3 linked regions of the Homo sapiens genome follow. The protein of the gene in region 1 purifies or fractionates together with the protein of each later gene. This does not show direct contact. Each region holds a gene or a part of one and is shown in the gene's direction. Other genes may lie near its edges.

Region 1 (3,073 bases):
CATGACTTCGATAACTGAAAATGTCCTGGGTGTAAACTAACCCAGGAATGTGGATCATACATGTTTTTTTTAAAAAAAATCCCTGAATCAATATTTTCCTACAACACACCCTAAAATTCCTATTTTTGTAATTAATGGTTGGACAGTGATCAGCCATTTAAACATAGGCTTTCTGGAATAACCAGACACTAGAATAGTTTCCAAAGTGTTTTGCGTATCAAAATCCTATATACTTAGAAGAAGAACTCAGGATAAGAAAAAATCGCTAGGTCCCAAAGGGTTCATGACTATCATCAGATGCAACTGCGAGTGGCCTACGGTCATTTTTTCAAATGAGAAGACTGGAGAGAGAGAACAACAGTAATCACAAAACCTCTGTTGCCCTTAGTCCATGACAATGTTTAAGGAAACTTTAAAAAATTAAGCCATCTTCTGAATTGTTTTCTACACCAAATCTAAAATATTAAAATGAAATTATTAAATATTTAAAATGGGGTATTTAGTGGAAATGCAATCAGTAGAAAACATTGCTTTTTAGTGCCTGCTAAACAAGTAAAGGAGAAAGAATGAAGAGAAAACAGCAGTCCTTCCTGTGTGACACTCGTGTGGAAATGACAGGCATTCACATGTCATTGAGTGCTAACTCAAAAGCTAGGTGGCAATGCTGTCCAATGTTTAGAGATCTTTTGAAATATAATTTTACCACCATTCAGAGGTAAGTACTTGCTTAACAGAAGTCTTTAATGTTAGTGAATGAATGTATAAAATTATAAACTATGCATTTTCAAAGAGTAGCATGTATTTTGTATCGAATCCAAGTAAATTTTTTTCATAGCTACCTACCACAACTGCAAATTATTCAAAATAAACTTGGATACATATCCTTATGGGGATATGGGAAGCCCATCTATATTCTCCTACTTGATGTTTTTAAAGATTGAAACTTTATTCTGAAACATCAGGCTCTAAAAAATTCCATCATTAAGATGAATAAATGGGAAATGGTTTATTTGTTACTTCGTAAGCATAAATGGGAAATGTTGGCTGTTAGAAAATGTGCCCAGTTCTTTAAAGGTGGATGTTCTAGTAACACTGGATTAACAAGCAAACAAAACTGCATGAAGTGAACGAATATTTCATTGGATAAAGTTAGCATAGGTTTTATCTGCTGGGTTTAATTCTCAATCCCAGAAAAAAATATTCTTCAAGGGGTATCAGTTATAGTTTCAAAGAACAAAATATGAAAATATTGTCCAGCAAAGCAAATCATTGATCTTTTTTCAAAATTACTTATATTTTGGAAAGTCTATATAGAATATCCACAAATTTCTTCAGCCCTCTTGTTGATTTCATATTTTCATGAAACTTTTTCCCCTAATAATTTGTCTTCGCTCTTTAATCAGTGCTTTACTACATTACTCAGCCTGAAAAAATATCTTTTCCTTCATCTGACAATGTGGAAATAAAGAACTCCATTTCTGTCATTCTGGTTCTCTTCAGTGTCCATTGAGAAAGTTTCTCAACTGTTTGTAAAATACGGGGGGAAAAAAACACGCATTTCTAAACCTGGTACTTAAGGTTATACTGGATTGTTTGCTACCTAATTAGAAGTTATTGGGGAAGGGGCATTGTGTCTTTTTATATGATTTTTAGCCAAATCCAGATGTTCTGATACACATTTCTGAATACCTGTCTGACTGTAAATACAGCCTGTGGAGGTTCAGGTTGATAAACCTTTCACCTGACTGCTCCACAGCCATGCTCCTTGCCAGCTTCTGGCACATTGTACATAGATTTGTTGAATGTTTAAATGATGTTGTTTTTCTAAATGCTGTTCTCTAAAACAATTTTTTGAATTTCTTTTGCTTTCCATTGTTTTGGACTTTGTGTGTTCGTTTTTTAAAAAAAAAAATGTTTCCTAAATATTTAACACCAGGAAAAATATTTTTAAATACACTGGTGCTAATTGAAACAGAAGGAAATTTTCAGATCGAAGATGTACAATGTTAAATGTTCATACCAGTTAAACTGCACTTTCCCAAGGGGACAGCTGGCATCTACTTGAAATGGGCATCAAGAGACCACCAAATGTTTACAGTTTCTGTGGCCCGTTTAAGTGTAAAATGCAGAAGTGGCTCTGTCCCCCCAGAGTTAAGGATTTGCTACACTGGTCCTCTGGAAGCATTTAAGTAGAAGAAAAGGCTTATAGTCAGAATCACTTTAGTAATCGTCTTCTGGTCCTTGGACTTTTCTGTTCTGTAATGCTTGTAACAATGAATATGGTGTTGCCAATCTAGTCTGATATCATTGTTGACCTGTACTTACTTTGTGGATGGTTCTACCTGGGGTTGCACTGGCACAAACAGAGCCAGAACACTGGACTTTCAAAAGACCATTTTGACTTCTACAGTGTCCACACACATGAATTTAAATGCACTTGTAACTGGTTAATTACCATGAAGTAAGTCTAACTTCCACTTAATAAAAGTTTTTGTGTATCTGCTTCTATTCGGAGACCAATTTATTTAATTAAGGATAACTATACCAAGAAAGTCTCGCTGGGGCTTGGGGTTTTACCTAGAGTTGTAAAAATAGTTCAAAACCAAGGAGATGTCTTCATCATCAAGGCCATTTTTAGAAACATGTGGAAGGCATGTGTCCTCAGGTTCAGCCCTGCTAATGACAATTTCAACCCATTCCCTTAGCAATGATTGTCCAAATATGTTAGCTGCTGACCCTGTGCTGCTGACTGTTGTCCCAAGCAAGTAGGCAATGTGGCAAACAGAGGGAAAATAATACCTATTTTGAAGCTAAGCCAGCCTGGAATTGTCATCCTCAGGCCTCGGGCTCCCGAAGGTGGGTTTCTGCAAAGTTGACTTTCAGTGCCCACATGTTTGCCGTGGAGGAGGGATGGGCATAGCAACCTCCACATACTGTGCTCAGACTGTAAGTGCGCCTCTCCCAAGCCCTCTGCTCCCAGGCTCCCAGAGGCCCTCCAGGTCTCAGTGACTGGGACACGGCAGAACCCTCAGGGGCAGGGCAGCCGAAAAAGATATTGAGAATCTGGGTCGTA
Region 2 (4,136 bases), on another chromosome or scaffold:
GAGTGGGTTTTATTTTTGTTTTGTTTCGTTTTCTCCTTAATAGAAAAATGTTAACTTACTGGGAATAGCTACTCAGCCTTGGAAATGGAGAGCACTGCAGTGAATTCTTTAGGGCACTTTTGTGGCCGGATGCTTCCAACTTTGTCAGTCTTTTCTGCCTCAACTTCTTCCAGACATCAGTCACCATGAGACTGTTTTACTTTCAGGCGTATTGGGGGGTTTGATTTACTTTCCTTTTATTTCTTTATTTTTTGCTTATACTTGTTTTTGAAAACCTCCTCTGAGTTTGAAGGGACAGCTATTTTTATTGATTATCTTTAAGTCTCTCTACCATGGAGAAGAGCAGGAAGGGATACACTCTCCAGTGCATTTTCATGTTTTGAATCTGATTAGTGGATCACGTAGCTACTTTCCCTGTCGCGTCCAATTCACTATTTGCCCAGAAGCTTGGGGCAGAGGTCCTAGCAGGAGATGATGAATTCTCGTGGCTCTCGGCCTTCTCAGAGAAATAAATGCTTTGTGTAACATCTGTGCACACCATCCATTCCGCTCGCTGAGCGATGGAAAAGCTTGCCTGGAAGACTATGTGCACTGAAGTAAATGGGGTTGGGGGAGGGGACATTTCATATTTATAATGTGCTGAAGGTACCATATTTTAAATGTTATTTAATGCAGGTGATTTATTCAAACATTTGTTCTAGCTTAAGCTGGAATAAGCAGTGGTCATTTCAGAAGTTTTCATTTGTAATTCCTTCCTCTCCCTTGTTCCCAAGTAGGTAGTAGTAAGTATGTGCCACAGGCTGATTATCTGGGTAATCTTTTACGGGTGGGAGGTGAGATTGATAGTGCAATAATCAGTGATCTATAGACCCTCATGCACGATTCAAGTTTCACTCTTGTGGCTGATGCCATTATTGCACATTGGCCATTCCAAACCTGTGGAGAACTTTGTTGTCAGGCCCTGAGCGCTCACAGCTTCATTTGGCCCAGGTTGAAGACAAGGAAAGCTCTGCTGTGGCTGCCTCTGGACTGACACCCTCCCTAATGAGTCCTGATGAAACAGCCTTTCCTACATCCTTCCCTCACTCCCATGATTGGAGAAATGATTCATTGGGTGATGAGTGTTGGGGTTTTCTATACTCATGTTGCCATCTTGAGATGTTCAAAAAATTTGGGGTTAGAGCAACTGTTAGCGTCTCTATGAGCAATCAGTAGAACTTACACATCCTAGGAAATCTTTCTTTGTAAGTAATTCTTTTGGTCTCAAGTGATTCTCTTCATGTTGTCTCTTGATGTACATACCCCCAAGCAAGTTGGGGGGACTGTGATGACAATTAAATCACCTTCTCTGAAGTTCTGGCTCTGCAGAGACCAAACCTTACTGACTTGTACAGACTTGTACAAGTAAAGACTTATACAGATAGATTTTTGTTTTAACTTACAATCCGTTTTTTCCTCTTTTTTTTTTTTTTTTCTGGTGTTGGAGTCTTATTTAGAAAACAGGATAAATGACGCTGTTATCAAAAGTTGCCTGGGGTTCTGTATTTCTTCTCTGCCCTCCAATCCCCGACTGCTATGATGTTTACTACAGTGAACCCAGCCCATGGTAAACACAGGCTTCACCTGTTCTTGTTTGTTAGCCTTGACTGTGAGGCAGGACTTCCCTCGCTTGAACTGTTACACATACGATGTGTGTGTCACATCACATATTGTGCAGCTGTTGGTTTTCATGTAGTGCCCTGCGATGGAAATTAGATATATTTCATGTATTTTTCCATTGAAGGTGGAGTTTTTCAATGATCATGTGTTTTGTCCTCCTAAACAGTATACCAAAGTTTGTTTTTATAGTTGAGGATTGTATTGATAACCACTGGGGTTCCGCATTGAAGCAGGAACAAATTGCCTCTTTTTCTGGCCTTCTCTGTGGGACCTCTGCTTTTGTGAAGCAACTATTTATTTGAAGACCAGGGTATGGGCACTTTTGCCTTCTCTCCTCTCTGACTTTTGAGGGTATTGAGGGCGCCCTTAGTCATAGTCTCGACTCCGCCATTGCCTTCTCCTCGGCGTCCTCACAACTCTTAATTGGGCCTAGTGAAAATGGGGGCAGGTGAGAAGTCCATTTTGAGAATCAGCATAGTAAATTACATTTCTAATCCCAGAGGACTTAATATTTTCTTTTGTCACCCCAGAGGTGAAAAATCAGCAGTTGAAGCCTGACAGGCCTCAGTGGTGACCAGGAACAGAAGCAGCCTTCCTGTTAGTAGATGGGGGTACTTCTGTGGTGGGCAGAAGCCTTACTAAAGGGGAAGACAGACTTTGAAGTTTCTAGACGAGAAGGAGGCTAGCTTCTAGCCTGGGTGGCCATTATTCCAAAAGGTCATTGTTTCTCACTAGACCCCAGGGCACCAGATGAATTTCCAAGTTTAAACTCTTTCCTGCAGGTGATTACTTTGAAAAAGGTTGGTCCAGACCATTTTGATCAAGAACCTGTATATGTGTTGTGTTAGAGGCATCTGCCTCAAGTCTATGTACAGTGTTTGCTGCGGGTGTGTTCCAATATTCATTTTACCTCTGCTTGGGGGTTTTGTGTGTTCCCCTCCCCCCATGCCCTGCCTACCCCCTTTTCCCTGAACCACGTCCTTTTGAATAATTTCCAGATGGATTTCTGTAGCCATACCAAAGCCAGGGTGTTTTCATTCATGCGGATACTAGTATTTATAGATGTCTGACTACCTAACTTAATTTTTGTTTTTGAACTTCTAATTGGGGCCAGTGTAAGGTCGATCCCAGAGGCTGATCTGCAAATCAAGCTACATGTATTTGTGTATAAGACCCTGTGTTCAGGACTGGGTGACTTTTCTAAGAAATATGGGGTTTAGAATGGGGTTGACTGTATTTTTTAACCTAATTCTGGAGAGAAGATTGTATTTTTTACAGTTTTTTGGGTTTGGCTTCCTTCTCACATTTCTTTAGCTTTGAATTTTTACTAAATAAATTTCCTCCTGATTAATTTTTTTTTTCTCATCTGGGAATTTGAAATCTCGGTGCTTACTGTTACACCAATTTGTCCAAAGAGTTGAAATCACTTTAATGCCAGAACATGGTAAATTTGCAGCCATTTCAAGCAGGTGATGGTCTTTTTTTATAACATCGTTAACGGGTACCATTAAATATTCTGAGAGGTGAATGTAAAATATAAAAGGTATAGGTTTTTTTTTTTTTTTAAAGAAAACAATAAACTTTCAAAGAGAAAACCAGCATGAAGTCTGTATTGTATCCATTGACTTGATAAGTGATAGAAATTTATTTTAGGTTTTTGATCCATTGCTTATGGGGAAAGGAAGTTAGGGCAGAGGAAGGGATATTCTAGACATTTAATTCTTAGTGAAGACTAAGATACAGAATGATGTCAGGCTAATACTCAGTTTTGTAAAGAGCAATCTGGGGTGTTGACCCTTAAATGTTTGTGCACTCTTCTTGTTGCAGATAAAAGTCATTAAAAATCAAGTGAATAGAATGGATCTTGGGTGGAAAAACAATCTTGAAATAAACTTGTGATTGAGGATATTGTTCATTTGGTGCATGATTAAGGAGGATATTGTTCCTGGCTTTTGAGATAGTGCCTACCAATCTTAACCAAACAGTGATGGTATTTGTACTGCTCCCGGGGTCAGCCAACAAGCCTGCGTGCTGCCACAGGTGACCGACCTGTGACCCAGTTATGGCACCCCTTTGGGAAAGACTGCTTTATGCTTTAGATGATGGAGAGGGGTGGTTTCTGTTTTTAAAATGTTTGAATTAGACAGAAATGTGCACAAGTTTTAATTGTAGAAGTTGTTGAAATCTCTCAAAGTGAATTCATCCATGTAACTATTATAGCATCCAGATCAAGAAATAACATTCCCAGAACCCACAAGCCCCTTAGACTTTCAGCTACTCCTCCCAACTAGTTTTCTCTATTTTAAGTACCTTAACCTTCAAGCTCTTGAGCTGCTTCCTTCCATGGTTGTTCTAGAAGAGCCAGGTACCTGGTATAGGCTAGGGATTGACCAGGAATGCAAAGAGCTAGCAGCAAAGGATATGACTAATTGGGGAGGGGAAAAACAGATTCAGGTCAACCTGCTCACCCTCCCCAT
Region 3 (3,657 bases), on another chromosome or scaffold:
AGAGAGATGAGGAGAGGCAGAAGTCAAAACGGGGACGACCTCCTTTAAAATCAACCCTCTCATCAAACATGCCGTATGGCTTATCTAAGACAGCAAACAGTGAAGGAAAATCAGGTACCAGAAGTGCTCGCAGCAATATACCAGACAGCTCACCTCTGTCAAATGGAATGGAAGGTGCTCAATTTTGAGGATGGCTGACTTTAAAAAAAATCAATAACATAAATAATAAAACTTCCATTGTGTGAAATATTCACAGTACAGGTTGAGTATCCCTTGCCCAAAATGCTTGGGACTAGAAGTGTTTTTGGTTTTTGATTTTTTTTTTTTAATATTGCATATACATAATGAGATATCCTAGGGATAGGACCCAAGTCTAAACATGAAAATTAGTGTTTCTTATACACATAGCCTGAAAGTAATTTTATACCATATTTTTAATAGTTTTGTTCATGAAATAAAGATTGTGTTATTTGAACCATCAGAAATCACAGGTATAATTGTCTCAGCCACCCATGTGAACAGTCTGTGATTGTTTGGCATCACTGTTATTCTTGACTCTGAATTTATATGCCAGCTACTGATAAGCAATTTTCTTACACTTATTCACACATAATTACATAACAGTAAAACATATGACTTACAATTAATACAGTGGAAAAATTGTGTGGGGAAACTAAGCAGCAAGGTAGCATCACTAGAATACCTGTATCAGCTGCTAAACAACAGCAAAAACAAACAGCAGGCTTTCAGTCTCCACCTACGATGCTGTGTTTTCATTAAAAGGTTACCCGTACACTAGCTTGGGGTTGCTGAAGAAACTGTTGTGCACCTGTGTTTGGATGCAATGTGTCCCATGAGGTCAGGTCTGGAATTTTTTACTTGTGGTGTCATGTTGGTGCCCAAAAAGTTGTGGAATTTGCAGCATTTTGGATTTCAGGTTTTTGGACTAGGGGTGTTCAACCTGTAAATCACCTAGGATTTTAATCTCATATGATTTAAACTATAAAATTTGATTTGAAGAAAATATTTTGCTGTATCATTTTTATCTAAAATTTAGTGATGTTTTCATTTAGGAATACTTTTTCTCATAAGTATCTTGAAAATAATATATTTTAATAGAAGGTGAATTGACAATCCATGCATCCTAATGTGTGCTACACTTTCCCTCAAAGCCTGTACCAGTGTATCCTATAAATTCAATGCTGTTCATCTGGGATCTTTCAGCAAAGCTGAGACCATGTGGTTCTAAGAGAACACAGACTACTGTGGTGCAGGCATGTTTTATAATGAGTATAGGTGAACATATTTTATTCTGCTTGTACTCGTTTCCCCCACTTTTCTACCTCTGTATACTTTTAAATGTAATTAAGAAATTTTAGGCTGAGTGCAGTGGTTCATGCCTGTAATCCCAGCACCTTGGGAGGCTGAGGCAAAAGGATCACTTGAGCCCAGGAGTTCCAGACCAGCCAGGGCAACATAGTGAGACCCCATCTTTACAAAAAAATTTAAAAATTAGCCAGGCATGGTGGTGTGCACCTGTGGTCCCAGCTACTCAGGAGGCTGAGGTGGGAGGATTGCTTGAGTCTGGGAGGTCAAGGCTGCAGCAAGTGTAATCACATCACTGCACTCCAGCCTGGGTAGCAGAGCAAGACCCCACCTCACTCTGTTGCCCAGGCTGGAGTATAGTGGCGCAATCTCAGCTCCCTGCAACCTCCACCTCCTGGGTTCAAGCAGTTTTCCCACCTCAGTCTCCCAAGTAGCTGGGACCACAGGTGTGCACCACCATACCTGGCTAATTTTTGTATTTTTAGCAGCAATAGGGTTTTACTATGTTAGCCACGCTGGTCTCGCACTCTTGACCTCAAGTGATGTACCCGCCTCAGCGTCCTGAAGTGCTGGAATTACAGGTGTGAGCCACTGTGCCCGGCCACCAAAAAAGAAATTTTAAATGGTTGTCTTATATAAAAATTTCTCTTCTTTCAAGAAAAAAGCTATACTGAACTACATGTTTGCTATTAGTCCATATGGTGCTTGTGTGCAAATTATAAAAGGACATCCTTCCTCTTTACTGCCATCTGCTGACAAATGTTTAAGATGTCCACAAAGTGAAAGGTACCCTCTTAGAAGGCATACCTGTGTGCAGTGTCCAGTCTATACAACTACATACCAGCCTTATTAAACTACCACTGAAAGGGATTTTTTAAAACATGAAAATGAATTCTACATTCTGTTTATGATAAAACCACAAAATAAAACTGTATACACCTTTTCACTAAAAAATTCATGTTTGCAGTTTTGAACTTCTTGAGGATTTGAGCACCATGTGGACAATATTTTTATATTTTTTAGATCCTATACAGTCTTAGAACCCTACTTTACTATTTTACAAGTTCCCTTACAGGGAACAATTTTTGTTTCCTGTACTTTCTTGTCTGTTAAGAATATTTAAAGTTTTGAGGATTCCAATTGCCCATTTTAAAAACTTTTCTTGCTGGGCACGGTGGCTCATGCCTATAATCCCAGCACTTTGGGAGGCTGAGGTGGGCGGATCACTTGAGGTCAGGAGTTTGAGACCAGCCTGGCCAACATAGCAAAACCCCATCTCTACTAAAATACAAAAATTAGCCGGGCGTGGTGGCCTGCGCCTATCCCAGCTCCTCAGGAGGCTGAGGCAGGAGAAATGCTTGAATCCAGGAGGCGGAGCTTGCAGTGAGCTGAGATCACGCCACTGCACTCTAGCCTGGGCAACCAAGTGAGACTATGTCTCAAAAAAAAAAGAAAAGAAAAGAAAAAACCTTTTCTTTCCACAGTTATTTTAAGTAGAATGTCATATTCCTTTCTTAGGGTACAAAATGCCCATCATCTGTCCTTCCTAGATACTATCTCAAACCACTTAACAAATTAACTTCATGTCTAGGATGTCTAGGTACTAATCTTTTGATCTTTTTTAAGGACTATTGTACCTAAATATGATACTGGGGAATGTTGCAAAATAGCTTTTCATATAGATTTGAGTTAGTAATATGCAACGTAATATATTTTTGCTTGGAGCTTAGTTTCCCCTCCCCCTCAAATTCTTGGCACAAATGTTATGATTTGTTTTATTTCAGAAATTTCTACAGGGAGGTATTCAGAGGTACATGATTAAAGATTTTTATTGTTATTTTTGGTAAGATTTTTATTGTAAAATTACATTGGTAATATAAAAACCTGTATAATATAATAATATTTCCTCTTACAGACTCTTGTTCATCTGATAGTGAAACAGAAGATGCTTTAGAAAAGAATTTAATAAATGAAGAACTTTCTCTTAAAGATGAACTAGAAAAAAATGAAAATTTGAATGATGATAAGCTAGATGAAGAAAATCCAAAGATTTCTGCACATATATTAAAAGAAAATGATAGGACTCAAATGCAGCCTTTAGAAACCCTGAAGTTAGAAGTTGGAGAGAATGAACAAATAGTACAGATTTTTGGGAACAAAATGGAAAAAACAGAAGAAGTTAAGAAAGAAGCCGAAAAATCTCCAAAAGGAAAGGGAAGACGAAGCAAGACAAAAGATCTTTCTTTAGAAATTATAAAGATTTCATCATTTGGCCAGAATGAAGCAGGAAGTGAACCTCATATAGAAGCTCATAGTCTTGAATTGTCTTCA

What was found.
Region 2: the proteins of ZNF704 (region 1) and SUDS3 purify together in Homo sapiens (co-immunoprecipitation; 3 studies listed by BioGRID and IntAct, with this or other methods). This does not show direct contact.
Region 3: the proteins of ZNF704 (region 1) and ARID4A purify together in Homo sapiens (co-immunoprecipitation; 3 studies listed by BioGRID and IntAct, with this or other methods). This does not show direct contact.

The regions. Positions count from the first base shown.
Region 1 is NC_000008.11:80,627,886-80,630,958, reverse strand, and holds the end of ZNF704 (zinc finger protein 704), read left to right. Parts: 3' UTR 1-2,508; downstream 2,509-3,073.
Region 2 is NC_000012.12:118,414,469-118,418,604, forward strand, and holds the end of SUDS3 (sin3 histone deacetylase corepressor complex component SDS3), read left to right. Parts: 3' UTR 1-3,565; downstream 3,566-4,136.
Region 3 is NC_000014.9:58,360,929-58,364,585, forward strand, and holds part of ARID4A (AT-rich interactive domain-containing protein 4A), read left to right. Parts: coding exon 1-114; coding exon of another isoform or gene 115-174; intron 175-3,241; coding exon 3,242-3,657.